Homo sapiens: one gene and its partner. The protein of the gene in region 2 purifies or fractionates together with the protein of the main gene of each other region. This does not show direct contact. Each region holds a gene or a part of one and is shown on either strand. Other genes may lie near its edges.

Region 1 (3,464 bases), on a different chromosome or scaffold from region 2:
GCTGAGGCAGGAGAATCACTTGAACCTGGGAAGCGGAGGTTGCAGTGAGCCAAGATCACACCACTGTACTCCAACCTGGGCAACAAGAGTGAAACTCCACCTCAGAAAAAATAAATAAATAAATAAATAAAATAAGAGAGAATCTCCTCCTAGTGAAGATGCTAAGAACATTGTTGAAATGGTAACAAAAAATTTAGATATTCCATTATCTTAGTTGATAAAGCTGTGGCAGGGTTTAAGAGGATTGACTTCAATTTTGAAAGAGGTTCTACTCAGGAAAAAATGCTATCAAAAGCATTGCATGCTACACAGAAATCTTTCATGAAAAGAAGAGTCAATCAATGTGGCAAACTTCACTGTGGTCTTATTTTAAGAAGTTGTCACAGCCACCCCAACCTTCTGTAACTACCGCCCCAATCAGTCAGTAGCTATTGAAATTAGGCAAGACCCTCCATCAGCAAAAACATTACAAATTGTTGAAGGCTCAGATATTATTAGCATTTTTTAGCAATAAAGTATTTTTTTACTTAAAGTATATACATTTTTTAGACATAATGCTATTGCACATTAAATAGACTATAGTATAGTGTAAACATAATTTTTATATGCCCTGGGAAACAAAAAAAAATTTGTCTGGCTCAATATACTCCAATATTTGCTTTGTGTGGTAGTCTGAAACTGAACCCACAATATTTCCAAGGTATACCTGTATGTATACATATCATCATTGTATTAATCATGGCAATTAGGACAAATCCCTACATTTAGTGGGAACTCAAATAACTATGCTAATGAATGAAAGTACAAGAACATAATAAAAGTTGGAAATTATCTCCATTCCTCACATAAAAATAATATGAAGAATTAGAAAGGAAATAAACCAAATGAGCATTCCAAATTTATTCCTTTTAAGTAAACCTATAGCCACTACATATGTCCCTGACAATTAGAACAGAAAACAAAAAAAGGACAAATAGAAATACTTTCCATTCTGTCTATATAGTAGTAGTTTTGGGGGTATAGATAGTAAACACTAGTCAAGAATACTCGTCTAAATATGTTGGTAAAATGTAGTCATCATTTGGCATGTGTTTTGCTTTGGTATATAATGAAGTTGAGCTATCCCATCTTTCTTCTCTATGGAATATAGTCACACAAACAAAAAAGATGAATCTCACTAGAGGTGGGTCTTTATCAGAAATATGCCCCAATCTAGTTAGGTAATAGAAAGAAAATCATTTTCTCCTCCTAGGCCTAAGATTCTTCATGTAAAAATTATAAGACTGAATAAAGATCACTTCTAAGTTTCTATAATTCATGTAGATATATCAATTTATACATCATGATGTAGACAGACAGCAAGGCTATACTTTCTGGCTCCATGATGCTAGGCTTGGCCACATGACTTGCTTAAAGCACGTATGATACATGCATCTTTTAAGAGAAAACCGAAGTGTATTTCATCTCTTTCTCTCTCTGCTAAAACAATCACAATGTCCCAAAAGAGATCCCTTCCTTTGCCTTTGATCATGGTAAGAAGATGACACAAAGCAGTGTCACAGCCAATCAACAGCTGACATCCCCCACCAGGAAATACATCTTTGTTGTTGTCACTACAGCATAAACTAATGAAAGCTAATTAAATATAAGAATTTGCTAATAATTGAGGATCCGTACACAATTAAACTTAAAACCAAAAAACTCTAATAGAAAACTCATAATTTAAAATGTGACATAAGGGGAAATAAGTTAAAAAGCAACTTTTAAAAATTACAAAAATAGTATTTGTAGTAAAATAAATGGACTTAAACATGTAATAGAATTTTCCCTGTGATTTCTGACTTGAATCTTTGAATGACTATTCCAAGTAAGATTCAACATTTTTACAGAATTGTTCTTCATCATTAAGATATTCCAAGATTATATTTCCACCATTATATAAAGGACAATCCTCCTTAGCAATCCAGGTTTCCAAAGTATGATCCAAGGGTAAGGCTTCTCCTGAAGTAATGTGACACAGCCTTAATTTCTGTGAAGGGAGAAGTAAGTCATACTGTAATAAATAAACATGCTTGAATGGAGCATCATAAAACCTTTATTAATATAGAAATATTATTATAATGAGATGTTACCTTAGCTGTAAATTTGTTATTGTCATTTTTAAGCCTGGCTAGAGAAGCGGCAAAGTCTATGGCCTTTCCAATGCTCCATCGGTGGCAAAAGAACATTGGTTTGCTCTTCTCTTTGCTCCCTTTAGGTAAGAAAACCTGAAAGTAAATTCTTTCTGTCTGTAAAAAGAAAAAGTTAAAACAACCATTACATAGACAAAATAGACATCAGTTTTTGTCTGGTGCCAACCGTTCCTCTCTTCTGGTCAGAGCAGAATTACCTTCTAACAAGGTATCTGCTACTTGGAATACCAATCACAGTAGCCAAAAACACACATAAATGCATGGGCATAGGACCAAGACCCTGGCCAGGGTGATCTGTGCAAAGACAGATATGTGGCCTAAGTTAGGCCAATCAGATCTGTTCCTGGGATTTTATGTTCAACAGCTTAGGAGACAAAGAGCACTCTCCTTATTTATTTATTTATTTATTTTTGAGAGGGAGTTTCGCTCTTGTTGCCAACGCTAGAGTGCAATGGCACGTTCTTGGCTCACTGCAACCTCCGCCTCCAGGGTTCAAGTGATTCTCATGCCTCAGCCTCTGAGTAGCTGGGATTACAGGCACGTGCCACCAGGCCCAGCTAATTTTTGTACTTTTACTAGAGACGGGCTTTCACCATGTTGTTCAGGCTGGTCTTGAACTCCTGACCTCAGGTGATCCACCCGCCTCGGCCTCTCAGAGTGCTGGGATTACAGGAGTGAGCCACCACACTCGGCCTCTCCTTATTTTTTTAAGTTTTATCAAATTAAACCTGGAGTTGCCTACAGCAAACCCCGTCACCTAACAGCCATTCCTGAACCAATGTGGAAAAAGTTTCCTCGAATGGGAAAAAATGAGGTCAATGTAGAAAGAGAAATAACAAGAAAACAGATGAGCTCTTTCAACATAATCTGAGTTCCTGAATTCATCCCCTAAGACCAGATCAATTCATTATTCCCCATTATATGAGGAAAAAAGTTTGTTTTGATTTTCCTAGTTGGAATCAAGTTTCCGTCACTTGCAATTCAAAGATTTCTGACACATACAACATTTCTTTTTATGTGAAAGACCTCACTATGTATTTAGACAGAAGGACTTTTCGGAACAAGGAAACATTAAAAACAAAAAAAAAAAAAGAGATAGAAAAAGACCTCCAAACCCCAAGTACCTTATCAACAAAAGAAAGGACTTGGAAAGGATTTCTCTAGTATTCTATATCTTATCTGCCCTCTCCTTATATTGTATTTTCTTGCCTAATTAACAAATGGATGGCTGAGCATGATGGCTCATGCCTATAATCCTAGCACTTCGGGAGG
Region 2 (3,500 bases):
GTGACGTGAAAATTTTATGACATCTATTATGTATCAGTTTTAAAAATTAGAATTGTATGAAATTAAGAGTTTCAGAGTTCATAAAGTTTGATTGGAACATACCATGCTCATTTGTTTACATATCATCTGCAGCTGTTTTTTGTTTTTAATATGGAACGCTTCACGAATTTGCATGTCATCCTTGCGCAGGGACCATTCTGATCTTCTCTGTACCATTCCAGTTTTTTAGTATATGTGCTGCTGAAGTGAGGACTGCAGCTGCTTTCTTGAACAATAGCAGAGTTGAGTGGTTGCAACACACACTGAATGTGACTGTCATCACTTCACACTGCTGTTTGACACATCACAAATCACTGATGTGGTTGTAACGACAGCATTTTGAGTGCCATGTATATCACATGAACCCACATTTTATTTTTTATTACCAGAGCATATCTATTATAGCAAAACAAGAAAAGTGGACTTTGTTGTTATTTTTAAAGTACAGTAGGGTGTGAATTATTTTGATGTTGAATTAGACGACAAAGCATCTATATAGCTAAGCTAAAAGAATAACCATTGACATTACCAGACAAACCACTCATCACAGTATTCCCAACTCACAGGCAAGCAACTGTTAGAAAAATTAGAAAATTTAAAATGGAAATAACAAAGCAGAATTTCTTCACAAAATGAAAATGAGGCTGCAACAACAGTAAGTCTCTAAGTCAATCATTTGTTAGCCAAGCAAAGCCATTTATTGATGGTGTGAATTAATTATGTTTGGATGCAGCAGCTGAATATATCCAGAGAAAATAAACTTAAGATTACTGGCCTTTGGCAAGAACAGTTGCTTAAAGAGTTAAGGACATTGAAAGCGACATAAATAGTCACTTTAAAAAGGAAATGATTCTGGATGGTTCTTTGACTCTATTTTTATTTTTACTTAGAGACAGGGTCTTGCTCTGTTGCCCAGGCTGGAGTGTAGAGACACAGTTACACCTCAATGTAACCTTGAACTCCTAGGCTTGAGATCTTCCCATCTCGGCTTCCCAATGTGTGAAGGTTACAGGTGTGAGCCCTTATATGTGGCCCTCGTGAATGGTTTAGCACTATCCCCTTGGTGGTGTCCTTAAGATAATGAGTTATGAGATCTTGTTGTTTCAAAGTATGTGGCACTCGCCCCCCACACTCTCTTGCTCCTGCCTTCGCCATGTGAAGTGCCTTCTCCTATTTTGCCTTCTACCATGAGTAAAAGCTTCCTGAGGCTTCCCCAGAAGCAGATGCCAGTGCTATGCTTCCTATAGCCTGGAGAACTGTGAGCCAATTATACCTCTTTTCTTATAAATTACCCAGTATCAAGTATTTCTTTATAGCAATGCAAGAATGGCCTAAAACACAAGGCAAAACAACTTTGATATGGTACAGTCATTTTGACAATCGATATTTGAATCACAATATTTGATGACAATATCCTTACACATTTGTCATACTATCAAAGAGAAAGAAACAAGATTTCCATTCCCACAAATTTTAGTGAGTATATTTTCTGAGTTCAGCATTTTTAGGGACCTAGGTGCAAGTGCAAAGGAAATTTCCCTGTTTCAAAATCTATTTAACTGCAATTGAGGTGATTCAACCTAATTTTCAGTAAGAAGTGATTAAAATAATGACATGCTAAAAGGCAAATTTCAAGGGAAGAAATGTAAAAGAATTTTACAAATGCTTTCCAAGTGATGAATATGCTCAGTTAATTTCATATGCTCCTGGATTGATAGCAGTATTTGGCAATACCTATCTGTATGAGAAGACATTTTTAAAGATGAAATGTGTAAAATCTTATTACCATTAGTATTAATGGTTAATGATGGTTAATGATAACCATTAATAGGCAATCATTTACAACTGATTTTGATCACAGGGAACACTTACTTAGAACCCTGATTAGAGGCAATGTTATTCTCACCAAAAAAGGCATTACAAAAAATTGGGCTATATTTTGAATTTTGTCAATTAAAAAAGCGTGGGAGCAGTGTGAAGGAGAAGAGGCAAGAACGACCCCTGGACCGACCAAAGCCCGCGCGCTGCTGCGTCCCACACCCGGTGCCCACATCCCGCCGCCGCCGCCGCCGCCATGCCCAAGAGAAAGACTGAAGGGGATGCTAAAGGAGATAAAGCCAAGGTGAAGGATGAATCACAGAGAAGATCTGCGAGGTTGTCTGCTAAACCTGCTCCTCCAAAGCCAGAGCCCAAGCCTAAAAAGGCCCCTGCAAAGAAGGGAGAGAAGGTACCCAAAGGGAAAAAGAGAAAAGCTGATGCTGGCAAGGAGCGGGAAGGTGCTGGAGATCCCAAGTGAAGTGTGTGCATTTTTTATAACTGTACTTCTGGTGACTGTACAGTTTGAAATATTCTTTATCAAGTTTTATAAAAATGCAGAATTTTGTTTTACTTTTTTTAAGCTATGTTGTTAGCACACAGAACACTTCATTGTTGTTTTTGGGGGAAGGGGTATGTGTCACTAATAGAATATCTCTGAAGCTGGATTGATACGGGGAAAACATCTTTCCCTTCTAGTTTTGAGAGACTTCCTCTTGGCTCCCAGGAGGAGGGATTTCCTGACTTTGACACACATGGCCACCTTGGCACAAAAGCCTTGTGGTATGGAAAAACAAATTCGTTTTTATGTCTTCTTTTCCCTTTCCATCTTTCAGCATAGACTTAATCCCCTTAAGCCCAGACATCTGTTGGGACCTGACCCCCGGTCATTGGTTACCAGTGTGTCTGGCAATCTGGACTTTCCAGTGATGCCACTGAGATGGCACCTGTCAAAAGAGCAGTGGTTCCATTTCTAGATTATGGATCTTCGGATAAATTCTGCCATTTTCATTTCACTTCCTGAAAGTCAGGGTTGGCTTGTGAAAAGTTGTTAAACAACATGCTAAATGTGAAATGTTAACCCTCTAAACTTTCCCTGTTCAGAGCATCAGATGAGGACTTCATTGGGTTTTATAGCGGCTGATTTTTGGTAGTCCATTGAAGAAGAGAGTTTGAAAGTTGTATACTGTTAATGACTGTCTGCCCATGTCCTGCCTGAAATACCATGATTGTTTATGGAAAGTATCTTTAATAAAGCTGGATACAGTTTGAAAGAAAAAAAAAAGTGTGGCAATTTGTTTTAGCTTGTTCTGTAAGTACCTACATAATATCCACGATTTTGCTTGTTACCCTGCAAAGCCTAAAATATTTACTATCTGGCCCTACAGAAAATGTTTAAGAACCCTAATCTAGATCATTAATTACAAATTCAAATGCCTTCAGAAGTCTGGCAGGTCATGTAAACAAATGAAGGCAATAAATGATAAGCAGTATAGGGATGTAATGAACTGGAACACTCATTCTTACTTAATTCAAATTGTTTTGAAACAGCCCAAGTATTGTACACTGATGTCCTAGGTTATAAAGTATGTGTACAAATGATGTTCTTATTTATACATGTAAAGTGGTAAGACTCTTGTCTCCAT

Evidence for each region. The genes of interacting proteins can lie anywhere in the genome.
Region 1: the proteins of TRMT5 (region 2) and ZFAND1 fractionate together in Homo sapiens (co-fractionation; one large-scale study listed by BioGRID). This does not show direct contact.

Annotation. Positions count from the first base shown.
Region 1 is NC_000008.11:81,700,837-81,704,300, forward strand, and holds the end of ZFAND1 (AN1-type zinc finger protein 1), read right to left. Parts: intron 2,289-3,464; coding exon 2,133-2,288; coding exon of another isoform or gene 2,085-2,132; exon of another isoform or gene 2,078-2,084; intron 2,030-2,077; coding exon 1,859-2,029; 3' UTR 501-1,858; downstream 1-500. UniProt on the Homo sapiens protein: Plays a role in the regulation of cytoplasmic stress granules (SGs) turnover. SGs are dynamic and transient cytoplasmic ribonucleoprotein assemblies important for cellular protein homeostasis when protein production is suspended after acute exogenous stress.
Region 2 is NC_000014.9:60,971,080-60,974,579, reverse strand, and holds the end of TRMT5 (tRNA (guanine(37)-N(1))-methyltransferase), read left to right. Parts: 3' UTR 1-3,139; downstream 3,140-3,500. UniProt on the Homo sapiens protein: Involved in mitochondrial tRNA methylation. Specifically methylates the N1 position of guanosine-37 in various tRNAs. Methylation is not dependent on the nature of the nucleoside 5' of the target nucleoside.